7 separate regions of the Homo sapiens genome follow, and all the other regions are linked to region 1. Evidence: fine-mapped QTL for protein levels in blood plasma. Region 1 holds a variant in brackets. A gene starts in each other region. All regions are shown on their reverse strands.

Evidence for each region. PIP is the chance, under the fine-mapping model, that this variant and not a neighbour inherited with it causes the effect. Protein levels are from antibody-based Olink assays in UK Biobank. Linkage for the fine-mapping came from a reference panel and not from the study's own genotypes, which makes the PIPs less certain.
Region 2: EREG starts here. The variant in region 1 is fine-mapped to the plasma level of the EREG protein (UK Biobank, PIP above 0.99).
Region 3: it holds the start of MCEMP1, and the variant in region 1 is fine-mapped to the plasma level of the MCEMP1 protein (UK Biobank, PIP above 0.99).
Region 4: EHD3 starts here. The variant in region 1 is fine-mapped to the plasma level of the EHD3 protein (UK Biobank, PIP 0.96).
Region 5: it holds the start of FOXO1, and the variant in region 1 is fine-mapped to the plasma level of the FOXO1 protein (UK Biobank, PIP above 0.99).
Region 6: HBEGF starts here. The variant in region 1 is fine-mapped to the plasma level of the HBEGF protein (UK Biobank, PIP 0.95).
Region 7: it holds the start of SNAP23, and the variant in region 1 is fine-mapped to the plasma level of the SNAP23 protein (UK Biobank, PIP 0.96).

Annotation. Positions count from the first base shown.
Region 1 is chr9:96,428,275-96,432,467 of GRCh38, reverse strand. No RefSeq gene overlaps it. Among named protein-coding and RNA genes, the nearest start is that of ZNF367, 12 kb to the right of the region's middle. The variant T/G (reference allele first, on the strand shown) is at 1,831.
Region 2 is chr4:74,363,260-74,367,452 of GRCh38, reverse strand. EREG (epiregulin) reads right to left here and starts at 2,308. Exons shown (of 5, transcript NM_001432.3): 1 at 2,078-2,308. The coding sequence starts at 2,144. It overlaps LOC105377276 (a long non-coding RNA gene), which reads left to right and starts at 2,112. Exons shown (of 3, transcript NR_188415.1): 1 at 2,112-2,302.
Region 3 is chr19:7,673,324-7,677,499 of GRCh38, reverse strand. MCEMP1 (mast cell expressed membrane protein 1) reads right to left here and starts at 410. Exons shown (of 7, transcript NM_174918.3): 1 at 325-410. The coding sequence starts at 379.
Region 4 is chr2:31,231,331-31,235,499 of GRCh38, reverse strand. EHD3 (EH domain containing 3) reads right to left here and starts at 1,348. Exons shown (of 6, transcript NM_014600.3): 1 at 652-1,348. The coding sequence starts at 878. It also overlaps a transcript of CAPN14 not described here.
Region 5 is chr13:40,664,564-40,668,756 of GRCh38, reverse strand. It overlaps FOXO1 (forkhead box O1), which reads left to right and starts at 2,116. Exons shown (of 3, transcript NM_002015.4): 1 at 2,116-3,174. The coding sequence starts at 2,545. RefSeq lists an enhancer at 1,228-1,277 and silencers at 1,928-2,457, 2,688-2,827, 2,918-2,967, 3,488-3,997.
Region 6 is chr5:140,344,633-140,348,825 of GRCh38, reverse strand. HBEGF (heparin binding EGF like growth factor) reads left to right here and starts at 2,223. Exons shown (of 6, transcript NM_001945.3): 1 at 2,223-2,543; 2 at 2,742-2,915. The coding sequence starts at 2,498. RefSeq lists silencers at 1,939-1,988, 2,029-2,308.
Region 7 is chr15:42,493,148-42,497,340 of GRCh38, reverse strand. SNAP23 (synaptosome associated protein 23) reads right to left here and starts at 1,707. Exons shown (of 8, transcript NM_003825.4): 1 at 1,628-1,707. RefSeq lists enhancers at 947-1,490, 1,491-2,034.

The DNA.
Region 1 (4,193 bases):
CTTGAGGTCAGGAGTTCAAGACCAGCCTGGCTAACATGGTGAAGCCTTTAGTAGAAGTCTCTACTAAAAATACAAAATATTATCTGGACGTGGTGGCGCACACCTGTAATCCCAGCTACTCAGGAGGCTGAGGCAGGAGAATGGCTTGAATCCAAGAGGCAAAGGTTGCAGTGAGCCGAGCTCATGCCTTGCACTTCAGCTTGGGTGACAGAGCAAGACTCCATCTCAAAAAAAAAAAAATTTGCACATGTGTCTAATGACACTACATTAGATTCTAAAATGTACCTCAGATAAAAATGTAATTCTTGAGGATTGGCTGACTCAAACTGTATCTTGGCATGCTAATTTATACCAAAAGGGACAGATTGAACCATAGACCCTATGTACTAGACACCTACCAATTAGAGACTACCCTTTTGTGTGTGTATGTGTGTGTATCCCCTCTGGGTCTTATTCTTTTGTCCATATTGCTTTTTAAAAATTATATAGGCCAGGCACTGTGGCTCAAGCCTGTAATCCTAGAACTTTGGGAGGCTGAGGCAGGCGGATCACCTGAGGTCAGGAGTTCAAGACCAGCCTGGCTGGCCGGGCATGGTGGCTCACACCTGTAATCCCAGCACTTTGGGAGGCTGAGGCGGGCAGATCACGAGGTCAGGAGATCGAGACCATCCTGGCTAATACGGTGAAACCCTGTCTCTACTAAAACTACTAAAACCCCGTTTCTACTAAAAATACAAAAATTTAGCCAGGTGTGGTGGTGGGCGCCTGTAGTCCCAGCTACCCGGGAGGCTGAGGCGGGAGAATGGCGTGAACCCGGGAGGCGGAGCTTGCAGTAAGCCGAGATTGCACCACTGCAGTCCAGCCTGGGAGACAGAGCAAGACTCCTCTCAAAAAAAAAAAAAAAAAAAAAAAACAAAAAAAAAAACAGTCGGGCGCGGTGCCTCACGACTGTAATCCCAGCACTTTTGGAGGCCAAGACAGGCGGATCACGATCAAGACCATCCTGCTAACACGGTGAAACCCCGTCTCTACTAAAAATACAAAAAATTAGCCAGGCCTGGTGGTGGGCGCCTGTAGTCCCAGCTACTCGGGAGGCTGAGGCAGGAGAATGGCATGAACCCGGGAGGCAGAGCTGGCAGTGAGCCGAGATTGAGCCACTGCACTCCAGCCTGGGCGACAGAGCGAGACTCCGTCTCGAAAAAAGAAAAAAGATAATATTATTACCTCCTTAAAAGCAGAGAAAGCCTTTGGAAAAAAATCCACATACATTCGTCATAAAGCACTCAGGAAGATAGGAATTAAAAAATACGTTCTTAACATAATTGAATGTTATTCCTAAAATTAGTTTCTTATTTAATGGGGATACACTATAGGGAATTCTAGCATTGGAAATAAGGCAAGGATGTTCACTATCCACTACTTTTCAACATTGTATTGGAGGTGTTAACTACTATGATTAGATGACAGAAATCAATTACAGGTTGAGCATCCCTAACCTGAAAATCCAAACTTGAAAATGCTCCAAAATCTGAAACTTTTCGAGTGCTCACATGATGCCAGAAATGGAACATTCCACACCTGACCTCATGTGATAGGTTGCAGTCAAAATGCAGTTGCACAACATGGTTTATTCAGCATCCCCAACAGAAAAAAAGACCCTCCCGGCCCCTTTCAGCTGTGGTATATCTTTTCTGTGCATGCCCAGATTACCCCCCAACAAGCGTGCCTGTAAAGGGTAATAAAATTGTACATATGCAGCTGGATGCACCAATGGCAGGTTCCCCACAATGCCCCATATAGGGCCAAGACCTATGTGCATTACTCACTGTG[T/G]TTTTTTTTTTTTTTGCTTATTCTCTGCTCTGTGTTTAAAGATATTGTTGGAAATGCCAAAAAGATACCCCTATGGGTAACAGTGATAAGAAAAAAAAGAAGCACTTATGTTTATCTATAGCACAGAAAGTCATGCTGTTGGAAAAATTGGATGGCGGTGGAAGTGTGAAATGCCTTACAGAACAGTATGGTGTTGGAATGACCACCATATGTGACCTGAAGAAACAGATGGATAAACTGTTGAACTTCTGTGCTAAAAGTGATGGATAGAAGTTAATGAAAAATAGAAAAACACTGCAAAGCTGAAAATGAAGATCTTGATCATGTATTGAAAGAGTGCATCCATTAGCATTGCAGTGAGCATATGCCACTTAATGGCCTGCTTATCATGAGACAAGCAAAGATCTATCACGATGAACTGAATATTGAAGGGAACTGTGAATATTCAGCAGGCTAGGTGCAGATTTAAGAGAAGACACAGCATTAAATTTTTTTAAAGATTCGTGGTGATCATGAAGCAGCAGAGAAATTAACTAGTGTGCCAAGGTCATTGCTGATGAAAATCTGACAGCAGAACAAGTCTATAATGCTGATGAAACATTATTGTTTTGCTGTTATTACCCCAGAAATACATTGACTACAGCTGGTGAGACAGCCCCTACAGGAATTAGGGATGCCAAGGACAGAATAACTATGTTGCAATGTGCTCATGCAGCAGGCACACATAAATGTAAACTTACTGTGACAGGCAGGTGAAAAAGCTTGCTGTTTTCAAGGAGTGAATTTTTTACCAGTCCATTGTTCTGCTAACAAAAAGGCAGGGATCATCAGGGACAGCTTTTCTAATTGTTTTCACAAACATTTTGTACTAGTGGCATGTGCTCACTGCAAAGAAACTAAACTGAATGAGGACTGTAAGATTTTGTTATTCCTTGATACCGATTTTGCTCATTCCCCAGCTGAAATTTTCATCAAAAATGTTTGTGTCGGCTGGGTGCGGTGGCTCACGCCTGTAATCCCAGCACTTTGGGAGGCCAAGGCAGGTGGATCGCCTGAGGTCAGGAGTTCGAGACCAGCCTGGCCAACATGGTGAAACCCCATCTCTACTAAAAATACAAAAAAATTAGCTGGGCGTGGTGGCACATGCCTGTAGTCTCAGCTACCTGGGAGGCTGAGGCAGGAGAATCGCTTGAACCCAGGAGGTGGAGGTTGCAGTGAGCCGAGATCGCTCCACTGCACTCCGGCTTGGGCGACAGAGCATGACTCCGTCTCAAAAAAAAAAAAATATATATATATATATATGTGTGTGTGTGTGTGTATATATATACACATATATACATATATACATACATATATACATATATACATACATATATACACATATATACATACATATACATATATACACACATATACATACATATACATATATACATATATACACACACATACATATATACATATATACATATATACACATATATACATATATACATATATACACATATATACACACATATACATACATATACATATATACGTATATACACATATATACATATATACATATATACGTATATATACATATATACATATATACGTATATATACATATATACATATATACGTATATATACATATATACATATATATACATATATACATATATATACATATATACATATATACATATATACGTATATGCATATATATACATATATACATATATATACATATATATACATATATACACATATATACACAATATACATACATATACATATATACACATATACATATATATACATATATACACATATACATATGTACATATATACATATATACATATGTACATATATACATATATACATATATACATATATATACATATATATATGTAGTCTGTGTCAGAGCTGGAAGAAGTGGATATTCAAGACGTTTTTAATGAGCCTTGTTCCTTCACTAACTGAGGGTGAAATATCTGAGTTGGTTCTGAACCAAGGTGATCGTGATAACAGTGACAGTGAAGATGATGATGTTAACACTATAGAAAAAGCACCTATAGAGGACCTGGTGAAAATGTATGATGGGCTTATTGAAAACTAGGGCAGTGTGCATTCACAACCAAACAAGAAATCATGTCAATTCATAAAAATCAAGAGAGACGTCTAAGACAGAAACTGGCCGGGGTGATGGCTCATGCCTGCAATCCCAGCACTTTGGGAAGCCGAGGCGGGTGGATCACCTGAGGCTGGGAGTTCGAGACCAGTCTGACCAACATGGTGAGACCCCGTCTCTACTAAAAATACAAAATTAGACAGGCGTGGTGGCACATGCCTGTAATCCTAGCTACTCAGGAGGCT
Region 2 (4,193 bases), not on the chromosome of region 1:
CTCTTTAGAAAAATCACAAGATAAAAAAGACAAAATTCTGCTCTAAAATTATAGATTATTTAAAAAAATGTTATCCGGTATTTCAACTCTTCTACTTAATGTTCAGTAGGCCAAAAATGCTAGCAAGCCCAAGTGTGGACTCTCACTTTGTCACTATTTTTCTATGTGAACTTGGGTCACAGTTCCCCAATTTATAAAACAAGAGCCTCAATATTAAACAAGTGTAAAATTTAAAAGTAACCAAATGATTGTGCATAGCAATTTAAATCTGTATGTGTTAAGGGTGGAGGCTGGAACTTTATTCCCTAGTCATAACTACATAAAGCAGTTATAACATGTATGCTAAAATTTAAAATAAATGTCTCGCTCTTTTTTGCTGGGGGAAGGACAAGATTTGGGAAAAGTATTTTTAGGAAATATTTTGTTTGGGGGAAAGAAGGCAATTTCAGAAATAACAGGTGGTCTTGCCAAAATAAGGCTATGGGCTCTGCATAACTGAATAGAGTTTAGAGATATAATACAGAACTTGAAACAGGAACTTTCCTAGTGGCAGAGAAATATCCAAACAAACTGGGAAAACAGAAACTGACCTAACTCATTTGGAAATGGGCTTGGCAGCTGACGAAATAGATGAACTATAATTAAGTAATGCAATGAAGGAGGTAAGCACTTTCATGACAACAAACACACACACAACACACACACTAGTGGGTAGTAACCAGGTTATTCACAGGCTCTGGCTGTCTCAAATTAGAATATTCAATGAAACACCCAGAACAGACATGTGCATTGTTCAGATGCAACCTTACATGTGGGGAAAATAATAAGTGCTAAGTTATTCTGACCTCGAGGTTAATTTCTAACTCTAGGAAGACTGTCACCTTTCTAATTTAATTCTTTTCAAAACAAAGACAGCAAAGCCACATTGTTTACTGAGAATCTTCTAGCAAGTCTTTCTTAGCTCAGTTTTGGCAGAAACCACATATCTAGTTTCCACTTGTGTTCCTGGACTTAGACTTGTAAGTTTCAATTATGCATAGTATGCATTTCATTAGGTCTCTCAACCCCTGAGATAAGGTGTGCCAAAATAATAATTTAACAGTCACATCCTTCACAGGTAGAGTTAGAGTGTCTGGGGAATCAGCCTCATTCCAACTCCAGGGAGAATATGAGACTGGTGGTAACTTTTATTTTTTTATTAAGATATTCATATACGACTTCAAACTCTTTCAAATTCCTTAAACTGAAGTTTAAGGAATTGGAAAGAAGTAATTTTTTTTTAACAGAAAGGCTATTTAGAAAATTTTTCCCCTTGAACTAAATCATCTCAAATAGGAAGACTGGCATTTAAATACCCTCAGCGATCACAGGCTATGGAGTGCAATTAGCAGCAAGTGCAGAACGCTTGCTCCAGAGGCTGCTTGGGAGGCTGCAGGGAAAAACGCAAGCAGCAGGTGTAGGGGCGAAGGGCGGTGGGGAGCGCCAGGACCTGCCCAGGGCCCTTCTGCTCCAGATACCCTCGACCAGTGTTTTATTTCTCTTGTGTCTGGAGCTCAGCCAACTGGCACTGGCGCATACCAGCTCCTCCGGGAAAGCTAAACCAGGCTAGGTTTTAGAAAACTGAGCGCAAGACAGAGGAGAAAAGCTTTTTCCCCCCTCCAAAAAATTTCTTACGCTAGTTTCTATTCCCCACTCTCCAACAAAAAGGAACAAGACATGAAATGTTAACAGTGCGTTCCAGGCCTTTAGATTTCTAGGACTGGCAACTTTTCAAAAAAAAAAAAAAAGCTTTTTCAACAACTTTTTATTTTGTTTAATAAGGAGATATTTCAATCCATGCATAACATATATGCCAATAATTAATTCACCAATAAAAAGCATTTTAACATCGATCCCCAGTCCCCCCCACCCCAGTCCCACCATAGGGGAAGACAGACTCACAAAACAAGACGTAATTTTAAATAGAGCACACTTGAACCTGGAGACAACTCCGTACTTGTCGAATGACAAATGCACAGGAGCCTTCCTTATTTGTCTCCTCTTTGGGGCGGCCGGAAGCCAGAGGGGGAGAACTTACCCAGGCAGAGCAGCAGCGCAGGGACCCTGCCGGCACAGAGCATCTCCATCCTCCTCCCCGCGGTCATCGGCGATGGGAGCGGGCGCTGGGGCTTGGCGGAGGGCGGCTGCGGAGAGTGCACGGGCAGGGCGGGAGCAGACGGGCTCGCGGCAGTGGCTGGAGAGCGGCTGTCAGCCTAGAAGGGACCCCACGTTGGCTGTGTCCCTCTGACACTGGAAATATCAGGCAAGTGAGCTCAACTGTCTGGTGCTGCGAACTTTATACTAGGGAGCCCCTCCCGGGCCCTAACGGGGTGAGGTCAAGAGTGCCCAGAGTTTCATAATTGGCCCGAGGGAGGAGCGGCAGGAGGACCGTCAGGAAGTCATCCTCCCTCCCTGGAGCACCTGAGAGTAGTGGTTGAGGAATGAAAAAATGTCTTTCCGATTGGCCGGGGACTACTCCCGAAACTTTTCCATCTCCCTCCGGGAGGTGGGGAGCGTGGACCAGATGGCTTGGTTTGCTTTGTGGGGTCACCTGCCCTGTAGTGGGTGGTTTTGGTTGCTCAGGGTGACGGACATAACTTGAATCAGTCTTTTAGCCAAGGCTGGCGTTCCCCATACATGCCTTTGGAGAGCTGTGCGTGTGACTTACTAACCTCAGCCACGAAAACTCCCTTAACTTGAAGTCTGTCAGTGATTCAAGCGCCCTCCTTGCATTGAAACGCCACCGCCCAGAAAAGCCTTTCCCATCTGCGCCTTCCTTCTGAGACCCCTGCTTCCAATGTGGCTCAGGCATTTATTACCTCAAAGTCGAGTCATTGTGAAGAAAATTCCTGTTATTTTTTTTCCTTCTGTCGTATTTGCCATTTGTCAGGTTGCTGCTTTTGATATGACTTCCTACTAAGTAGTGCCTTAATCCTGTCGCTCCCCTGCACAAAACCTTTCAACGACTTCCTATTGCTTTTTGGACAAGGCCTGCCACAAACGTGAAGCCAATCGGTCTTTTCAACCTCAGCTCCCACTATTTCCCCAGGCAAATTGTCTGACCCCAGCCAGGCTGGAAAACTCTAAGCCTTTCCTCACTCCCACTTTCCTGCCTATGCTGATGGAGTCGTACTTTGAGGCAATGGCTACTTTTTAAAGGAATTAGTGAAATCCTGCTCAAATTCATGGTTCTCCTCAAGGGCCTGGGCTTCTTAGGCTTGTGGATCTCTTTTCATTCTGATCTCTTATAGCTTTTGTCGTTTATCTTCTCCCTAGCCTCATAGAATTCTAGACCCGGTACTTTACACCTGGGAAAGCTACTTTGTATTCCTTGACTTTTTTTTTGTTTGTAAGTCCTATGTTCAGCTCTGTACTGTGTAAATTGTCTTCCTTTTCACTGCACTCCTCTATAGGACCTAAGAACTGTGAGTCAATTCAGCAGTACTGTATGTAAATATACATATTTGAATAGAAAATGGAATCTAATGGATGTTAACTCCTTACCTTTTTATTTCTACTTTTTAAAAAATTATTATTACTATTCCTTTTTTTTTTCTGGCTTTTTTCTCTCATACTCTAAGGCCCTTTAATGTCCAGAATGCTCTTGTTAGAAACAAATACTTCGGCCGGGCGCGGTGGCTCACGCCTGTAATCCCAGCACTTTGGGAGGCCGAGACGAGCGGATCACGAGGTCAGGAGATCGAGACCATCCTGGATAACACAGTGAAACCCCGTCTCTACTAAAAATACAAAAATTAGCCGGGCATGGTGGCGCGCGCCTGTAGTCCCAGCTACACGGGAGGCTGAGGCAGGAGAATGGCGTGAACCCGGGAGGCGGAGCTTGCAGTGAGTCGAGATCGCGCCACTGCACTCCAGCCTGGGCGACAGAGCGAAACTCCGTCTCAAAAAAAAAAAAAAAAGAAACAAATACTTCATCATGTTATCAGGGGTTAAGATTTAAACTGTCTGTGTGTGAATTCCTGGACAAGTTATTTAATCTGTCTCAATTTCCTCATACGTAAAACAGGGATAATAATAGTATCCAGCGCATAGGAAAATAATGAAAGTGCTTAGTAGAGTGCCTAGTACCGAGTTAGTGCTCACTAAAAATACCTACCATTATATGCAAACGTTGATGCTTAAGATGGTGGTAC
Region 3 (4,176 bases), not on the chromosome of region 1:
GTTAAGTGGAGCGGGTGTGTGAGAGTTTGAGTGATCACACCACACACACATCCACACACACATCCACACATCTTGGAGGGGAAGGAGCCCCCGGCCCCCACCTTTGACCCCTTACCTCTCCCATCTGAACTCTCCTTCTTTTTTTATTTTTATTTTTTACAGACAGAGTCTCCCTATGTTGCCCAGGCCAGTCTCCACCTCCAGGGCTCACGCAATCCTCCCGCCTCAGCCTCCCAAAGTGCTAGGATTACAGACATGAGCAAAAGCCCCCGGCCCCCCAATCTCTCCTTCTTAACCCCTCCCTTCCACCTCGAGTTCCCTAACCTTGATTCTTGGCTGAGACCCCCTGTTTCTTGTCCCTGAAGGCTGGTGCTTGCATCTTGACTTCCTGGTGCTTGTAGATTTCCTCCACTTCCATGGTCCCCAGCCCGCAAATTTGTCCATACACGTCCCCGCCCACCGGAAGGTGTGGGCAGATGAGGAAATCTGGAGGTGGGGGGAAGAAAGAGGGGGAGCAGCCTCCTCTTTTCAGGGATCCACGACTCTCGCACCCTGGGGCACCCTCATTCCTGCCCCGATCAAGAGGCTCTTGGGAGCCAAGAGGTCTCAGGAAGGACCAAGAAGAAAAACCTCTAGACCGGGAGATGGAATTCGACACTCGGAAATGTTACAGGAAGCTGTGGTCTCTGTGTGTGTCTGTGTCTACCTGGATGGACCTCACCCTCCTACCTCCTCTCCATTTCAAAAGAGAAGCTGTGACACCTCAGTGTCCCAACTTTTCGCGTAAGAGCAACCAGGCTTGGAGACAGGACCCCTGGGTCCCCCCACACCTTCCTCCCTCCAGCCTCAGCTCCACCCCTCAGCTCCACCCCCAAGAAGTTCTTCTACTTCTACAAGTCCCCGTGGAGGAAAAGCACAGATGTGAGGCAACGGGAACTAACCACTGGAACGCCACACCCACATCTGGGACTGAGGACAGACCCACATCCTTCCCTCCCTCCCCAAATCCCCTGCTTTTATACAACCCTGGAGGAGGCTGGGTGCGGTGGCTCACGCCTGTAATCCCAGCACTCTGGGAGGCTGAGGTGGGTGGATCATCTGAGGTCAGGAGTTTGAAACCAGCCTGGCTAACATGGTGAAACCCCGTCTCTACTAAAAATACAAAAATTAGCTGGGCGTGGTGGCGAGCGCCTGTAATCCTAGCTACTCAGGAGGCTGAGGCAGGAGAATCGCTTAAACCTGGGAGGCGGAGGCTGCAGTGAGCGGAGATCACACCATTGCACTCCAGAATGGGTGACAAGAGGGAAACTCTGTCTCAAAAAAGAACCCTGGAGGAACAGTTTCCTCTGCACCTGGAAACTCCAGGTTTCTCATTCTCATCCATCCATCTGCTTATCTACCCAGATACTCTCTCTCACACATGTACACACACAGGTCTGCACACGGACACACATCACAAACTCATTTGCATACTATTTGCATTGTGACACTCAGAAAAATAGACACAAGCATGCGTTCACATGCCCGCACTCTGTCTAGAAGGTGTCTTAGTTCACTTTGTGTTTATCTGATCTTGAAAACTGGGGTTACAAAAGGCACAAAGTAGCTGGGTATGGTGGCTCGCTCTGTAGTCCCAGCTACCCAGGAGGCTGAGGTAGGAGGATCATTTGAGGCCAGGAGTTTGAGACCAGCGTGAGCAACATAGCAAGACCCTGTCTCTTTAAATGTTTTTTAATAATTTTTTTTTGAGACAGGGTTTCACTCTGTTGCCCAGGCCGGGGTGCAGCAGCGTGATCATGGCTCACTGCAGCTTTGACCTCCCTGGCTCAAGTAATCCTTCGTCCTCGGCTTCCCGAGTAGCTGAAATTACAGGTGGGCACGACTTCACCTGGCTAATTTTTCTCCTTTTTTGAGATGGAGTTTTGTGCTTGTCACCCAGGCTGGAGTGCAATGACGCTATCTCAGCTCACTGCAACCTCCGCATCCCAGGTTCAAGTCATTCTCCTGCCTCAGCCTCCCAAGTAGCTGGGATTACAGGCATGCACCACCACCCCCGGCTAATTTTGTATTTTTAGTAGAGACGGGGTTTCCCCATGTTGGTCAGGCTGGTCTCGAACTCCTGACTTCACGTGATCTACCCGCCTTGGCCTCCCAAAGTGCTGGGATTACAAGCATCAGCCACCGTGGCCCAGTCTAATTTTTCTTATTTTTTGTAGAGATGAGGGTCTCAATATGCCGTCCAGGCTGGTCTTGATCTCCTGGGTTCAACTGATCCTCCAGCCTTGGTCTCCCAAAGTGCTGGGATTACAGGCATACATTTTTATTTTTATTTTTTTCTGGCCAGGTGTGGTGGCTCACGCCTGTAATCACAGCACTTTGGGAGTCTGAGGCGGGCGGATCACCTGAGGTCAGGAGTTAGAGACACCAGCCTGACCAATATGATAAAACCCTGTCTCTACTAAAAATGCAAAAATTAACTGGGCGTGGTGGCAGGCGCCTGTAATCTCAGCCACTCGGGAGGCTGAGACAGGAGAATCACTTGAACCCGGGAGGTGGAGGTTGCAGTGAGCCGAGATCGCGCCATTGCACTCCAGCCTGGGCAACAAGAGCAAAACTCCGTCAAAAAAAAAAAAAAAAAAAGAAAAAAGAAGAAAGAAGAAAGAAGGAAGGAAGGAAGAAGAAAAGAAGAAAAAACAAGTATAAGACTGTCTTATGTGCAGAAAGTGATGATGTTTTGGTTAAAAATATGTGGTTAAATTTCAGACAACTTGAATGTTGAGAAATGAGCGTCGAGATCTGGTGAGGATAAAGTTCTGTTTCCTAAAATATTGCCAAATCCTGTGTCTCCAAGAAAGATCAATTTGATAATGACTTCATGCCAGCTGCTCCATTTGGTCTTAGAAAGAAGTCAGTTACTGAGCTATAGGACCGCCTTCTAATGGAGCAGACGGACCAATTGGATGTGGGCTCTGCCTTGATGGACAGGCACAGGGGGTGGAGCCACAGCGTTGCACATTTCCCGGGCTTGGGTGGGGCTGAGACGCGGCTCCAGGCTCTGGACTTCCTTTGAGAAAAAGGTCACGCTAAACCAGAGGCCCACAAGCAATCATGTCATGTGGGAAACATCTGCAAAGCTGCCTGACCAGCACCCGTCCCTTTCATAGGGTAACATTCTCAATTTTCTTTTAAGAAAGAAAATGTGTGCTAGATCCAGCAAACCATAAGCTAGGGATTGGTTTACAGTGGACAAATGATCCAGACCCAGCCAACCAGAGTCTAAGATTGGGCAGAGAGGCGGGCATTTGAGCAAGATCCAGCCAATGAAACGCTGGTCTGGGATTTTTATTGGTTTAACCACGGGGGAAAAAGCATTCTCTTTTTTTTCCAGCCCTCACTAGGGCTGCCACAATGGGAGGATGTAATGGGAGCTGTGACAGGGAAGAATTTACTTGAGAGCAAAGGCAGTGCTGAGAAAATCAGACCCGAGAGGAAGTCTGGGTCCTGGAGACATCATTTGAGACCCTGGTTCCAAGCCATACCTGAACCTGTTGTTCTAACCCTGGGCTTGTCAGTTACACAAACAAGAAACTTCCTTTTAGTTTTGCCCAAGCTAGTTTGAAGTGGGGTCTGTTGTACTTGCAAGCAGAAGAATCTTGCCTTGGCTGGTCTCTGTGGCCCACGCCTGTAATCCCAGCACTTTGGAAGGCCGAGGCAGGTGAATCACTTAAGGTCAGGAATTTGAGACCAGCCTGGCCAAAATGGCGAAATCCCCGTGTCTACTAAAAATACAAAAATTAGCCAGGAGTGGTGGTGGGCGCCTGCAATCCCAACTACTCAGGAGGCTGAAGCAGGAGAATCACTTGAACCTGGAGGTGGAGGTTGCAGTGAGCTGAGATCGTGCCACTGCACTCCAGCCTGGACAACAGAGTGAGACTCCATCTCAAAAAGGAAGAAGAAGAAGGAGGAGGAGGAGAAGGATGAGGAGGAGGAAGGAGGGAGGGAGGAGGGAGGAGGGAGGAGGATATCTTGCCTACCACAGGGGATCTAGGCATTAGCTATTGAGGAAATTGAGGCTCTAATAGGGGGTTTGCCTGTCCACATCACCTGGGCAGATATGACCTCCAAGTCTGCACTCTGGGGCAGGAGAATGTCTATGTTGGAATTGAGGAACCTGAA
Region 4 (4,169 bases), not on the chromosome of region 1:
ATATTATTATTAAGCCATTAAGATCAAATAAGAGAAAGGGGAAAAAAAAAGCATTCTGCTTCTGGACTCAGCTTCTGTTGAGTCTCCAAGATATATACACAGGAGCTCTGCTTTAGAGAAGGAAATGATAAAAGGAGGACAAGTAGCATCCCCAGGCCACCTCCGTTCCCAGGCCCGCACCCATCAGAACTCAGCTGCAACTGTGAGGCCCCCATGTGAGTGCCAAGCCCCTTGAAAAACAAGGGAAGAGGTTTTGCCCGTGAATGATGTGTTGCTAAAAAGTGAAGACGTAAGACATCCCCACCAACATAAGGCGCTCCAGAGACCAGGAGCTCTTCCATTGTGCCTCCTGGGCCTCGGTTTCATCATCCATAAGATGGGGAGACTGGGAATGGCTTTACACTTGAATACTTCAGGTTGACCACCACAGCCAAGGGCCAAGTAGAGTGGACAGGTATTGGGTAGGATGGGAAGGGGGACCAGCAAAAATTGTGGGGTAAGATTTTGACGCCTGCACAAACACAGATCTCTTCAGAGCCCTCAACTGAAGGCTTCCCATTGGTCCCCTGTCTGGGATGGAGCACCAGGAGTGACCGGAGGGACTAGGCGCTGGGCTCCGGGGTGGGCTGCCAGGACCCTGGGCCGGCTCACCTGATGAAGGTGGTCTTCCCAGTGGAGTACTGGCCCACCAGCAGAACCATGGGCTTGTTGTCGAAGTCGGCATCCTCCAGGGCGGGCGAGTGGAACTCGTGGAAGCGGTAATGCTCTTCCAAGGGCAGCAGCTTGCTCTTGTAGAGTTTCTTGAGCCCCTCACTCACCGTCTGGAAAACCTCGGGGTCCTTCCTCCGGCGGTCGTCCGTACCCAGCCAGCTGAACATCGCGGCCGCCGCTCGCCCCCGGCACGCAGCCCCAGGGGAAGACTCCTCCTCAGGGGAAGATGTCCCGTAGGACCGGTCCGCCGGGCTCCGAGCCGCGCCGCCGCCTCACCCAAGCGCGGGGCTCAGCCGCACCATGGCCCGGGCACGCGGCTAGGAGGGCCGGGAGCGCACTCTCCCTGCTCCTGGGACCAAGCCCAGCCGCTGCTGCATCCAGCAGCCCAGGCCGGAGGGAGGATAAATAATCTGGGCTTGAGGAGGAGGGGTGAAATCTTGGCAATTAAAGTTGAACCTGCAAGGAAACTGCCAGATGCCGGGGTCCCAAGCCGGGGTCCCCGATCGGCCCCCAGCCCTCGCCTGCTCTGCCCTGCGTGCAGCAAGGGATGCTTCGGCTCCGCTCCTGCCGGACCGAGGCGGCTCAGGGGAGACGGCGACGCTGCCCAGCCCGCGGACAGCTCTGCATCCGCAGCAGCATCCTGCAGCCCCAGGCGGTGGTTTAAATGCCAGCTGGGCAGGAAGCCGGCGCGCAGAGGAAGTCCCCTAGTACTGGCAAGGCAGGGCCGGCCCCACGGTTGCGGCGACGGGAAGCCGCGCAGGGCGCCGCCATGTTTGTGGGCAGGCGCTCAGCTCTAGACCTGCGGCCGCGCGGGGAGAGGGATGCTGACCCAGTCCAGTGGGAGAGTGCCGGTGTCTCAGTCTCCGCCTCTGGGGCTTCGATTTGGGAACAGCGCCCTCTCAGGGACGGCTGCGAGGACAGAGTTGACCTATTCATCACACTCCCTGCTTTGAATCGCCTCTCCTTCAGTTGCTGAGGTCAATTCCCTAGGAAAACAGGTACTCTAGTATTGGGGGATTTTTTTTTTTTTTGGCATAGAAAGGGGATCCACTATCAGGTTACACAAAATAACCAAAACTGTCACTACCCAAACTTTTAGCTAGGCTTAGGGTGAAGTCAAAATCGTTCCCATTTACTTATTCATTCATTCCAGCAAAACAAAACAAGCCAAGAAGCAAAATCCCTGCAAGTATTGGGAATTTATTATGGGGCAGTTACAATTTTGGTGACTGTGGATACAGAGATGAGTGCTGAACAGACTCTCCCTTCCAGGAACTCCAGTGAAGGCAGGCTTTAAAGAGGAGGCATGAGCAGAGGGTCATGGGAATACAGGGAGGAGTCACTCCTTTTGTGTGGCTAATTTGAGGAAGGCTTCATGGAAAGCATGACTGTAAGCTGGATCCTAAATGATGAATTGACATCCATTGTTCTAGGAGCGTAAGGAGTATTTGCAAAGGCTTGAGGAACTTGGTGTGTCCAAGGCAGAGTAAACAGTTTGGCATAGCTGGAGTGTAGGGTTTAGGAAGGTGAAAGAGAGTGAGGGAGGCCAAGCATGAAAGGCTTTGCCAGAGATGGGGAACCAATAGCAATGCTATTACTAATCATTGTTACATTAACAAAATGCTCAGCATGTGCAGGGGCCTGGGCTAAGTTCTCAGTGAACATTGCTTTATTTAACCTTCATGGCAGATCATATTATCTCCAGCATCATACTAAGGAGAGTGAGTGGGAACACTGTCCAGGTGTAGGCAAAAGCAGTGCATCGTGTGTAGAGAATTTAAACCCAATAATAAACTTGCTGAAAGTTGATGTGCTTTGTATTGGCACCATTCTAAACAGTGTAGTGATAAAACACTCCTCCCTGCCCAGGCTAATGACTCCCACTACCCTCCCTTCCACAGATGAAGAAGGAGTAGGCTATGGACCAGGCAGGAACTGGAATGCCAAGAGCAGTGTTGGAGGGGCAAAAGAGGTTGGGGGTTGATATGGTTTTGCTTTGTGTCCCCGCATAAATCTCATCTCTAATTGTAATCCCCATAATCCCCATGCGTTTAGGGAGAGAGCTGGTGGGAGGAGATTGGATCATAGGGACAGTTTCATTCATGCTGTTCTCATGATAGTGAGTGAGTTCTCGTGAGAGCTGATGGTTTTATAAGGGGCTCTTCCCACTTGGTTCCTCATACTTCTCTCTCCTGCCGCCTTATGAAGGACGTGTTTGCTTCCCTTTATGCCATGACTGTAAGTTTCCTGAGGCCTCTCTAGGCATGCAGAACTGTGAGTTAATTAAACCTTTTTCCTTTATAAATTACCCAGTCTTAGGTATTTCTTCACAGCAGTGTGAAAACAGACGAATACAGAGGCCAAGAGACCATTTAGGAAACTATTCCAAAACTTAGGAGACAGCTGCAATGGGATTGGAGAAGAGGTCAGACTCAAAAGATTTTTTTCATGGAATAGAATTGTCAGATCTTGGTATGTGATAAAAAAAAGAGGACATAAGGGTGAGGCACAGTCTAGGATGATTTTGAATTTTCTACCATAGGGGATAAGATCATTGGAGAAGCTCTTCCACTAATTAGGGGAGGCAGAGAGAGAGCTGATTTAGCAGACAGAGATAATGTGTTCAATCTAAAACGTGTTGCGTTTGAAGTGCCTGCAGGAGCTTCAAGAGGAGTGTGGTGAAGCTGCAGGGATTTCAGGGGAGGGGGGATTATCAGAGGCCAGTGCTGAATAGAATCTCCTTAGTTACATCTCAGATCTCCCGACTCCCTCCTTGAACCCCAAAACTGATCATCTCTTGTTGAGAATTCACTCAGATTAATATTTCACCCTTGGTGTTTAGCTACTACCAACATACGAACCTAAGGAGTAATATTAAAGATATTTAACAACTCACAAGGCATGAGAATCAAACACCCGGAACAGACACTGGCCTTCCTAGTGGAGCAAGGCTTGCGGCCCCGTGCCACGCCTGGTGTTAATACAGTGGCGTCTGGACCTTGGAGAGATCTGAGCCTGTCCCCGGAGAGAGGTCAGTATGGCCAGCGTGACAGGAAAGAAATCAAGGGGCCCCATTATGGAAGTATTTCAAGAATTTTGTAATCAGTACGGCCATGCCATTGTCTACTGCTGAATGTCTGTTCCGAATATCTAATTTACCAAGTGCGTGTTGACACATCTACTCCCGTCTCAGTCTTGAGTAGTTGAAATCTATCTGTTTAAAAAAGGAACTAATGGAGCATTTCTATAGACTAGCAATAAAAGGTCATGAAAGATAATATTCAAAAAAGATACTGTGTTCAAAAGAACAAAAACTTACGGATAAATCTGACAAAAGATATGCAAGATCTTTATGTGAAAAATAATAAAACTTTATAGAAAGATGTTAAAGAAGTTCTAAGTAAATGGGAGAGACATGCCATGTTCCATTGTGGAAGGATTCCTTGTCACAAACATGT
Region 5 (4,193 bases), not on the chromosome of region 1:
GAGAGCCTCAAAGATTTCAAGGATTTGGGGAAAGTCTGTAGGAAGACTCCTTTAACCAAATAAATATTCTCTGACGCCCTGAAAAACCGGAATAGAAATGAAGGCAAGGCCAAATTTGAAGCTGGCTTCCTTTGCCAAGAATGATCCAGTAGGGCACCGCCTATTTTTAGGGTGCGGCTGTCTGGATCGGGGGCTGCTTCTGCAGAGTGTAATTGGAAAGGTGGGGGGAAGCAACAGCTGTACTTTGGGGGCCTGCCTTTGAGCTCATCATCTGAGTTACTGAGGTCCCCTAGCGGCTGTCAGAGGAGGCCCAGACTGTCCAAATTTGATAGTAAACGTGAAGAGACCACAAGACCAGGGTGGGAACCAGTCCCCGCCCGTCCCCAATCCATCCGGCTCACGCTCCCCACCCCACCCATGCCTAGTATCAGCAAGAAGCTGTTGTGATAAATAGATTATGAAGAAACAGGAGCCCGGACTAGAGAGACGATAGTGAGAATATAAAAGAAGAAAGATAATCTCTCTCAATCTTTTTAACTTTTGTAAGAGGCCTAATTTTTCCTTTTTTCCCCTCTTTTCTCTTTTATTTTTTCAACAACCTCTTGTCCAACTGACTAATTTTCTCTAGATGCCACTTTTTCCATTGCAGAATTACTTGTAAGAAAGAAAGGGATTAAAAAACAAGAGTTGGAAGCTGTCCTTTTGGACAAGATATTTAAAACCCTACTGTCCATCTTCCATCCTAAGTGGTCCCATCTTTCTAAAAGGAAATGCCTTCCATATTCTTCCTAAAAAAGCAAAAGCATAACAAAACAAAACTGGAAAACTGTTTCTTCTGCTTGAGACACAAGGGCCATTATCTTCCCACCTTTGGCCCCACTGATCCTTGACAGGATGTCCTGGACCTGCAGCCCAGATGAGGAAAGGTGGGGTGTGGGTGGGGGGTTGACTGACACACACAGCAAGTAGCCTCAAGGAATTTGGGGGTGGGGCAGGCTGCGCCCCAAGGCTTTGGTCCTATCTCCCGCCCCCCTTGCGTTTTTACTTAACACCCGATCACTTCCGTTGCAAATAAAAAAGAAGTAACAAACAGCTAAATTTAATTAGGGATAAGTAATAAAATGACCTGGTTCTCTCTAACTGCGCTCCTGAGCCCTTCGCTGCCGGCCCTGGACTTAGTGGACGGAGCGGGAGATTCCCGCCCAGGGGAAGAGGTTCCCACGGAGGGCATGCGGTCGCGGGTGCCTTTGGATTCGTGTGTTCAGGGAGGCCAGATAATCTCCTCCCCGCGCCGGAGCCCCTGTTCCTCATTTCTAGCATTTTAAAAAAGGTCAAGAATACAGTGAATCCGGCTGGGGGCTGCCGGCTGGGTGACGCGCCTCTGGCTAGACCGAATGGCACAGGCTGAGCCCGGGGGTGCGGACCGGTGGGCACGGAGAAGGGTCCCTCGGCGCGGACTCGACTGCAGGAGCCGCGGCGCCGGGGGTGGGGGGCGTGTGCCGCTCGCGAGGGGGCCGGAGGACTTGACAGATCGCAGCGAAAGAAAACATTAAACCAAAACAAAACCCACCGATTCCCCACGTCGTTCAGCAAAGACATCGTGGGTGGAGCCAGGAGGGAGCGATTGAGTAGAATTCCTCGCGGCCGCCTCCGCCCGCCCACCCCGCGCCCCCGGCCCTCGGCCCCCTGCCCTGCCAGCCCGCCGGGCTCGGCCCGCAGCGGAGGTCAGGGAGCAGCGAGCGCCTCCTCCCACCCGGGCTTCCCGAGTACTCGGCTCTGCTGCTCCGTAGTAAACAAAGTGTCGCCGGCGCCTCCACGCTGGTTTGCTTCCTAGCAATCAAAACACTGAGAAGGCGAGAGAATCACAGAAACACTCGAGAATTACCAGAAAATAATAGAGATCCAAAAAAAAAAAAAGGAGGTGAGTGTGTGAAAGAGAAAAACACCCCACTACCCCCCACCAGCCCACCGCCGCCTCCCCGTGGAAAACCGGGCCCCACCCAGCCCGGCGCCCACTGGCTGCCCGGGCGGCGGTGCCGCATGCCCATTGGCCGCGCGGGCTGTCGGTCAGGGGCGGGCCGGCGCGCGCGCCGCCGCGGGCGGGGGGCGGCGGCAGATCCCGTAAGTCGGGCGGCCTGGTAGTCGCAGCAGCCGCTGCCGCAGCCGCCACATTCAACAGGCAGCAGCGCAGCGGGCGCGCCGCTGGGGAGAGCAAGCGGCCCGCGGCGTCCGTCCGTCCTTCCGTCCGCGGCCCTGTCAGCTGGAGCGCGGCGCAGGCTCTGCCCCGGCCCGGCGGCTCTGGCCGGCCGTCCAGTCCGTGCGGCGGACCCCGAGGAGCCTCGATGTGGATGGCCCCGCGAAGTTAAGTTCTGGGCTCGCGCTTCCACTCCGCCGCGCCTTCCTCCCAGTTTCCGTCCGCTCGCCGCACCGGCTTCGTTCCCCCAAATCTCGGACCGTCCCTTCGCGCCCCCTCCCCGTCCGCCCCCAGTGCTGCGTTCTCCCCCTCTTGGCTCTCCTGCGGCTGGGGGAGGGGCGGGGGTCACCATGGCCGAGGCGCCTCAGGTGGTGGAGATCGACCCGGACTTCGAGCCGCTGCCCCGGCCGCGCTCGTGCACCTGGCCGCTGCCCAGGCCGGAGTTTAGCCAGTCCAACTCGGCCACCTCCAGCCCGGCGCCGTCGGGCAGCGCGGCTGCCAACCCCGACGCCGCGGCGGGCCTGCCCTCGGCCTCGGCTGCCGCTGTCAGCGCCGACTTCATGAGCAACCTGAGCTTGCTGGAGGAGAGCGAGGACTTCCCGCAGGCGCCCGGCTCCGTGGCGGCGGCGGTGGCGGCGGCGGCCGCCGCGGCCGCCACCGGGGGGCTGTGCGGGGACTTCCAGGGCCCGGAGGCGGGCTGCCTGCACCCAGCGCCACCGCAGCCCCCGCCGCCCGGGCCGCTGTCGCAGCACCCGCCGGTGCCCCCCGCCGCCGCTGGGCCGCTCGCGGGGCAGCCGCGCAAGAGCAGCTCGTCCCGCCGCAACGCGTGGGGCAACCTGTCCTACGCCGACCTCATCACCAAGGCCATCGAGAGCTCGGCGGAGAAGCGGCTCACGCTGTCGCAGATCTACGAGTGGATGGTCAAGAGCGTGCCCTACTTCAAGGATAAGGGTGACAGCAACAGCTCGGCGGGCTGGAAGGTGAGTGGACTCGGCGCGCGGCCGGACCTTGGGGGCGCGGTGGGTCAGGCGAGGGCGCAGCTGTGCAGGTTTGCTCGGCCTGAAGGTGCGGAGCAGGAGGGCAGCGCGTTCCCAGGAGGGCGGGCGAGAAGCGGTGGTCGCGGTGGCCTCGCCCGGGTCCGGTCGGGGACGGCAGTAGGTGTGCGTGCGCGCCAGTCAGGAGTTCGCGTGGGACGCGGTAAGGGGCTCGTTGGGGAACTAAGTAAAGAAAGTGCGCCAAGAAGTGGACGTCAGAGCGAGGCCGAAAAGTTTGCCAGTGAAAGGAGAAAGGGGTTCGCTGGGAGCGGCAACCCCCGGCCCGCGCCGACTGCTTCGGCTGCCCCTTCCCTCCCGGACCTCCGCGGGGGGAGGGCGGGTTCTCTCCGGCCGCGCCGCGGAGCTGTTTCCGCCGGGCGCGGCGGGGGAGGGCGCGGCGAGGGGCCCCGGAGCCTCGCTGCCCCGGGACCGGGCTGCAGGTGGAGGGGACAGGCAGGGCGCGACCGGCCGGGGACGGTGCAGGGCCTGCCGGGCAGTTTCTGGAGGCGGTGCGCATTTTGCTTTGTTTTGGTTTTCTCCGGAGTGGCCTCGAGTGCCGGGGGCCCGGCGTCCCGAGCCCGAGGTGGTGCCTCCGACACGTGCGAAGGGGCGGCCACCGCCTGCGGAGCGCCGGCGCCTGGCCGCGCGGGGCGAGCTAAAGTTCAAGTGTGACCCTCGGCGGGGGCGGGCGCGGGCGGTGGCGGTGGCGGTGGCGGTGGCGTGGGAGGGGCCCCGGGCGCAGGAAGCCCGCGCCTTTAAAGGGCCAGCGCGTCGGGGCCGGGCGCCGTGGGGCCAGCGTTTCTCCATGCGGGGAAGCGCCCGAACTTGGTCTTGCCCCTGGTAGGAGGCTTTTAGTTAGAAACACAGAGGCTGCCCTGAGGGGCCGGGGGCTGGGATGTGTGAGTCTTTTCCTGCCTTGCCACCCTATTCTTGAGCATGGAGGACCAGGCGGGGGGGCTTTGCGA
Region 6 (4,193 bases), not on the chromosome of region 1:
CAGTTATCACTATAGGATATGTTTTTCCTTGTTTATTTCCTTAATGTGCTGCCTGTCTACTATAGAATATAAGCTCTGTGAAAGCAGGTCCTGGGCTGTCTTATTTATTTCTATGTCCCCAGTGCCCCCCAAAAATGTTCAGTTAATGTTTATGATATAATTGAGTTAATGAGATTGCCTCAGCATGAATTGTGATTCCTTTTCTTTGCTCAGAGACATCCAAGATTCTGAGAGGGGAAGTGACTGTCCCAAATCCAATTCAAGCTTTTTATCTTCTTTTTTCAGGCCCTTCCTGTAAAACCTGGCTGACACACAAACCTAGCTGGGGTGAGGCTCCAGGTGTGATGAAAGTTTGGAGTTGCCCCATGAATGGGACTGAGGCTGATGTGGGGGTGAGAAGGCGGAAGGACAGAGCATGTGAAGGGAGAAAGGCAGGCTGGGGCAAGAGAGCAGGGTGTGACTCTGGCGAGGGTGGGGGAAAGGGGGTGATTTGACCATGTGTCAGGAAGTGTTTCTCTCCACCCTCCCCTGGGGAGAGCCTTGACCCCAAGGTGGCTTTGTTTTGGGGAAGCAGGTGGCCAGGCAGCTGCTGAGGGAGGGCAAAGTCATGGCTTGGGCGGTGACCATGCACTGAGGTCCTAGGCCCGATACTCATCACCCAAAAGGATAATCTAACAGTGGCTCTTAGCCAAATAGGTGACAGGTGAGCTTCTGTCTGAAACCAGCCCAACTATATCATAAAGCCTCAGATATGGCCTAGGGGAAGGCAAGCGATCTAGAGAAGTGAGAGAAAAGAGGCCTCTAAGGAAATAGAGTGGTCAAGTGCTTAGTGATTATTATTAACAGCAACAATAATAATGGGTCACATTTATTGAGAGCTTATAGTGTGCCTGGCACTATACTAACTACTTTTATGTGTTCCCGCATTCATTTCTCAAAAAGCTCCCTACAAAGTAGTCATTATTATTATTGTTATTATTTTTTCCATTTGAGAGACGTCAAAACTGAGGCTCAGTGAAATTAAGTTTCTTGTCCAAGGTCACACAGTAAGTAGCAAAGGCAGGATTCAAACTCAGGTCTGTAGTGATTCCAGTGCACTATGGAAACCTAGGCCTAGGTTACTGGAGCAAGTTAAGAGGGCAGGGCCAGACTGACCCCTGCAAAGGTGGGGATAGGGAGGGACAGTGGGATAGACTGTGTATAAATAGCAGGCCTGTTTTTATCCCTACACACAGGCAGAATCCGGCAAGTGCTCTATCTGGCACAATTTCAGGGCTCTGAAAGCCAACCCAGCCCTGTGTCAAACAACTCTCTCCCCAGCACGTCCCTGGAAACTGAAATACCTACTGAGACACTCATTTCTTTGGGTCAGGACAGTGACTCCAGAAGACCCCTGCAAAAGCACATGGGTTGGAAGAGAAACACCTAGTGTCTGTGAAACAGCAATCTAGGTTAGCCAGCTGGGTCCTATGGGAGGGTGGCTCATTTTTTATGTTGAGGAAAAAGGTGGCAGTCAAAGGCAAGGAAAAGAATAAGGCTTGTTTCACAACCTGTGTCTCTCCAATCTCAGAAGCCTGGGAATTACAACCCATAGTTCAAAAATCCTAATGTCCCCTGAGGGAAGATGGGAGGAAGCCACTCCAGAGACTAAGAGAGTACTAACTTCCTTTGCTTTTGCTGGATTGATACTAAGTGCCTGCAACTTCAACTCTGGTTATCTCGGGTTTATGAGAACGGCTGGCATTCACGTGTCTAATTTTTAAATGATAGATGAATTAATTATTATTTGATACTTGCCGTGTTGGTAGGCCAAAAGGTGGGCTTCTGAAACTTAGAGGGTGACAGGGATGGAGACCCCTGGTATGGGGCTTAGATGAAGCAAGAGGCCAGGCCCGGAACAGAACTCAGCTCAGCAGTCAGTCACAAGGCTGCAGAGTGACAGGCGTTTGGGGAAAGGTAGGAACCGCTCTCCGCCACCTGCCGGTCAGTAGCCCTACCCACAATCAGGCCGCGGCTGCCTCGGCCTGGTCCCAAAAATTGTGAACGCCGCCCTCTCCTCCCGCCCAGTCCTCCGCCGCGCCCGCGGGGTCGGGGGCTGCGCTGCCGGCGCCGCGAGCCGGGCGAGCTTCCCAGCACGGGAGGAGGGAGGGGGCGGCGCCGGGCGGGGCGGAGCTTCCGCGCCTCCTGGAGCCTTATTCCCGGCCGCGAGCCGGGCAGCGCTCATTCGGCCGAAGGAGCTACGCGGGCCACGCTGCTGGCTGGCCTGACCTAGGCGCGCGGGGTCGGGCGGCCGCGCGGGCGGGCTGAGTGAGCAAGACAAGACACTCAAGAAGAGCGAGCTGCGCCTGGGTCCCGGCCAGGCTTGCACGCAGAGGCGGGCGGCAGACGGTGCCCGGCGGAATCTCCTGAGCTCCGCCGCCCAGCTCTGGTGCCAGCGCCCAGTGGCCGCCGCTTCGAAAGTGACTGGTGCCTCGCCGCCTCCTCTCGGTGCGGGACCATGAAGCTGCTGCCGTCGGTGGTGCTGAAGCTCTTTCTGGCTGCAGGTAAGAGGGCTGCCGACGCCCCCGGAGATCGGGGGGATGGGGGCGTTGTGCTGGGGGCATGGGGGAAGGTCGCCGCAGCGCACCCGGCACGGGCCACTTGGTGGGGCCCTTGCGCTCTGGCGGACGGGCGTCGGCATCGGTGCGTGTTGGTCAGGGGTCTGGGCGGGTGTCTGATGCGGCCTGGCCTCTCGCCCGCAGTTCTCTCGGCACTGGTGACTGGCGAGAGCCTGGAGCGGCTTCGGAGAGGGCTAGCTGCTGGAACCAGCAACCCGGACCCTCCCACTGTATCCACGGACCAGCTGCTACCCCTAGGAGGCGGCCGGGACCGGAAAGTCCGTGACTTGCAAGAGGCAGATCTGGACCTTTTGAGAGGTGGGTGTGGAGGCCCCCCATCCTTGGACCTTGGTGGGCTGTTGAAGAATAAGCAGATCCAAGATTCTTGCTGTTTGGGCAATACTGTGGGTTGAGGGTATTCATGGAGAACCTCGGGGAAAAGCTGATCGGCCTGATGGGCACTGGGGGATCCTGGAATATAGGTCCCACTCTCTCTCTCTTGTCATTGCCTCACCTGCTGGGTTGCTGCCCTTCTGGGTACTCCGGGGCAAATTGAATCAGACGTGTTGTCTGGGGTTGTTACGTTCTTCTTAGGTAAGCTGGGTGATAGGAACAAGGAATGGTTGAGATGCTTTCCCTAGAGCTACTATGTAAAAATGGGCGCCAGTTCTAATTCCCATATCAAATGACTATTATATATAAAATAGAGGTAACACATGCGGAGATGCCCAGGCACATCTCTAGAAAGTGTGCAGTGTTGGCCTCCTCCATCCACCTGTCTCCAGATTGGGGAAACAGAGGGGAATGAGGAGCTCTTGGCCGCCCTAGATGAGGCTGTGAATGGTGAGCACTGAGCCCCTAGGGGGCTGTATTAAAATGCTGGATATCTGTGAATGCTACCGGAAACCTGCAGCTTACTGAGCACCTTGCATTCCTGAGGAGACTCCAAATGGGGAGGGCTGTGTAGGATCCTCCAACCAGCCTCTTTGGCTGTGGCCAAGTACAGGTACAGGGCAGAGTCCAGAGCCTGCCAGCTCTCCTGCCTCCAAACCTGAGGAGATTATCCAGAGTAGAGCAAGGACTCAGCACTGTACCCTGGAATGACTATATTTGGTTGGACAGATGCCCACCTGTTCTAGTTCCACCTGCTCCTCAGCTGCCCTTCTCCCTCATTCCCAGGAGCTTTCCTTGGATACTCTCTCTACTTTGTATAAATCAAGCACATACTCCAAAACTGAGCCTGGGCTCCCATACTTCATCCTCTCCCAGTGGCCCTCTGGGGTTGCCCATGACCTGAACAGCCTGGATTCTCCTGGCCCTCTCCTCCTAGGCTGGGCAGGGCTGGGCTGTGACTCACCCCACCCCCACCCCCCACCCACACGGCTGCTCCTCTTACCTCTGCAGACCTGACTCACTGCTCCCTGTCCATGGCAGGAGCCTGGCTGTCACCCTGCACCTTCTCCCTCCCCTTTCTGATTGGCTTGGCCCCCCTGCCTTGCTCTCCCCGAAGCTCTGGTCACTGGGTTCCTCTGACCACCTGTATCACCTTCTGAGCTCTGAGGGGGCCTGGGACTGGATGAGAGGAAATGAAAGACT
Region 7 (4,193 bases), not on the chromosome of region 1:
GCTACTTGGGACGTTGAGGCAGAAGAATTGCTTGACCCTGGGAGGCGGAGGTCGCAGTGAGCCAAGATCGCGCCACTGCACTCCAGCCTGAGCGACAGAGCAAGACCCCATCTCAAAAAAAAAAAAAAAAAAAAAATTAGCCAGGTTTGGTGGCACACATTTGTAGTCTCAGCTACTCAGGAGTGTGAGGGAGGAGAATCGCTTGAAGTGTTGGAGGTTGTAGTAAGCCAAGATCGCGCCACTGCACTCCAGCCTGGGTGACAGAGTGTGAGACTCCATCTCAAAAAAAAAAAAAAAGAAAGAAAGAAAGAAAGGGGCCAGGGGCAGAATGATACAGTTTGGCTATTCATAATCTCATCTCGAATCTGGTGAGAGGTGATTGGATTATGGGGGTGGTTTCCCCCATGCTGTTCTCATGATACTGGTTTTATAAGGGGCTTTTTCCCCTTCACTGTCTCTCTCCTGCCATCCTGTGAAGAAGGTGCTTGGCTTCTCCTTTGCTTTCCACCATGATTATAAGTTTCCTGAGGCCTCCCCAGCCATGCAGAACTGAGAGTCAATTAAACTTCCTTCCTTTATAAATTACCCAGTCTCGAGTATTTCTTTTGCTTTTTGTTTTTTTTTGAGTTGGAGCCTGACTCTGTCTCCCAGGCTGAAGCTCAGTGGCACGATCTCGGTTCACTGCAACCTCTGTTTCCCAGGTTCAAGTGATTCTCCTGCCTCAGCCTCCGGAGTAGCTGGGATTACAAGCATATACCACCACGCCTGGCTAATTTTTGTATTTTTAGTAGAGATGGGATTTCATCATGTTGGCCAGGCTGGTCTCGAACTCCTGATCTCATATGATCCTCTCTCCTCGACCTCCCAAAGTGCTGGGATTACAGGCGTTAGCCACCAAGCCCGGCCTTGGGTACTTCTTTATAGCAGTGTGAGAACGCACTAATACAGACCCCATTCCAGGAGATGACAAATAGCAAAAGGCAAAATGATACTCCCTTCTTGACTTTTTTTTCCTCTCCCACTTTTATGTCTTTACGTTTCCTCCTACCATCAACTGCCTTTCCTAACATTGTGGTGACTGATTAAAGAAGAAAAAAAGGACGAGATGAAACTACACTTTACAGTACTTTTTCCCCCCACCACTCCAATCCCGAATTGTGAAATTCATTCTTTTCCTGATCCTCTAATTTGTGCAGTAATGCCGCGAGGTAAGGCTGAACCTTTCTAGAGAGCAAGGGCTATCCAATACCAGGAACCTCAGAGTCCTTCCTCAAGCCATTATCTCAGAGCTATCTGATCACTGTGGTCACCATACAGGCAGTCTATTAATGTCAACTACAGCAACACAGTAAGGGTGAGGGGCGGAAAGTGATCTCTGTTTAATTTCGAGGAAGGGTCCAGAGAATTACCATCCAGCTACCCTTCCTCCACTGGTCCCTCGATGTTCTCCCGGCACCTCCCGTCCTCTCTCCGGGCCCATCTGCCGAGTAAGGGCCAGAGAGCCCCCTCCTCCGCTTAAGCCCGACCCCACCAACTTTTCAACCAATACGATACACTCTTTCTTCTCAGGACATAGTCTCAGACTTCATCCCGGCCAGCTCCCTCCGTCCCACTCCTGGAGACTCACCAAGCGGGCGAGGCCACTCCTCTCCGGCGGCAACTCGGACACCCCAACACCGGACCTGGCGCTGCACCCTAGTCGCGCCTGCGCGCGCCGAGCCCGCGCGCCTGCTCACTTCCCGTTCGCCGCGGACACAGACACACCCCTGCAGCTGGAGCCAATCACGGTGCTGGGGGTTTAAATGTCCCTGCCACGCAGACGGAGAGTCTGGGAATTCACTAGTTAACCGGATAGATTTCAGTCCTGCCCGAAGCTGGGAGGTGTTCATGCAATAAACATTTACTGAGGGCAAACCGTATGCCAGGCACTGTGCTGGATGAACGCTGAAGAAAAGAAAGCGAATACAGTGCTTTCCCTGCTCTTCATCGCCTTTCAATATGTCTAGACTAAGATATAGATATGTAAACAAATTATAGTGGATAGAATACAGTGCATAGCACATAGAAAATTTGAGGCGCCTTTGGCTGATAATGAACAAAGCGTTTTATTCTTAGGGGTGTCTGGAAGGGTTCCCGGAGGAAGTGACTTGAGTCATGAAGGATAAGTAGGAGTTCCCCCGGAAATCCGGCAGAGAAAGAGCTAGAGTTTTCCAGGCTCTGGGGAACAGCTTATGTCGAGAACAGCATAACGCCTTCTGGAAATTTCTAGTAGTTCATCCTTGTTAGAGGCTTAGTGCTAATCGTACATCCCCGAGTGTAGAGGAAAGAAAGCTTTAGAAGGCCAACAATCGCTAGATCTTGGAAGGCCTTGGAATTTTAGACCACTTTGTACTAGGGGCACTGAAAGCTATTGAAGAGTTTTAAGCAGATGGAGGATTATTGTAAACTATTTGCTGCAGGAACCCCTCCATGCACCTCTAAGAATAAAATAAACTGCTGGAAATCAAGAAAAGAAAGTGCTTCACCAGGCACAGTGGCTCACGCCTGTAATCAATCCCAGCACTTTGGGAGGCTGAAGCGGGCAGATCACGAGGTCAGGAGTTCCAGACCAGCCTGGCCAACATAGAGAAACCCCATCTCTACTAAAAATACAAAAAATTAGCCGGGCATGGTGGCAGGCGCCTGTAATCCCAGCTAGTCGGGAGGCTGAGGCAGGAGAATCGCTTGAACCTGGGAGGCGGAGGTTGCAGTGGGCCAAGATCATGCCATTGCACTCCAGGCTGGGCAACGAGAGTGAAATTCCGTCCCCCCTACAAAAAAAAAAAAAAAAGAAAGAAAAAATAGCTGGGTGTGGTGGCGGGTGTCTGTAATCCCAGCTACATTACTATCATAATGTCTATCACTGGCGACAGTGCCAGACTCCATCTCAAAAAAAAAAAAAAAAAGTGCTTCAAGGAGTAAGTAGTCTATTCCTAAGGGATCAAGGAAGATGAAGCCTGAGAAATGTTTTTTTTAATTTCATAACACAGAGGTCACTGATTATCTCAGTGAAAGCTGTTTGTTGGAATGCTGGGGTTGAAAAAAACAACTTAGTAGTTTGGAGGTGGGGGAGATGTAGAGATGGGGACAAGTTGTAGAATGCTTTTGGAAAGTTTGGCCTTGACAGGGAGGAAGGAGGGAGAATGATGAAGGATCAAGATTTTTTGTTTTTGTTTTTTTGATTTTTGTTAGAATTAAGACAGGAGAAACTTGAGCATGGTAGGGAAGATTCAACTGAGAAAAAAATGGTTGAATAAAGGAAGAGAAGGGATAGTCAGTAGGCAAAGATCTTGAAAGGGTAAGAATAGAGGCAGTTTAGAGGCAGTTCGAAACACTGGTAAGAATAATGGTTTTGGAAGAGGGCAGGGAGGGAGAAAGAGAGAGAGAGGAGATATTTCCCCAATTATGAGAGGAAGTATGTTTCTGTATGTTTAGTAACAGGAAGTTAAAGTTCTCATTTGCTGACTTGTTTTCTCTGTGAAGTTGAAGATGGGGTCATCTTCTGATAGAAAAGGAGGTGGTATTGGGAGTTTAAAGGAAAGCTGAGAAGATTTGGAATATTGTAGAAAGTAATACAACAAGTTGACAGAAGAATGTTGTAGGACTGGTAAGCAATATTGAGGGCCTTTTTAATATGGGCAAAAATGAACTCACCATTTTCTGCCCTCCTGTGTAAATTTCTCAAGCAGCAGTCACTTGTTGAGGGCAGAGGTGGAGAAAATGTATGGTTGAGTTCATTAGTTCATTTAGGGTTGTGATGGTCATTGATATAATTCCGTGGTTCTCAACCAGGGACGATTTTGTCCTCCGGGGGATATTTGGCAATGTCTGGAGATGCTTTATTGTGATGACAGGGAAACGGGGGTGGGTACTACTAGCATCGTGTCCAACAGTGCTGCTAAACATACATACACACACACGCACACACATATATGTATATATATATAGAGAGAGAGAGAGAGAGAGAGAAGGTCTTGCTCTGTTGCTCAGGCTGGAGTGCAATGGTGTGATGTCAGCTCACTGCAACCTCTACCTTTGCAGCTCAAATCCTCCCACCTCAGCCTCCTGAGTAGCTGGGACTACAGGTGTGCACCACCACTGCCGGCTAATTTCTGCATTTTTTGTAGAGACACGGTTTCACCATGTCACCCAGG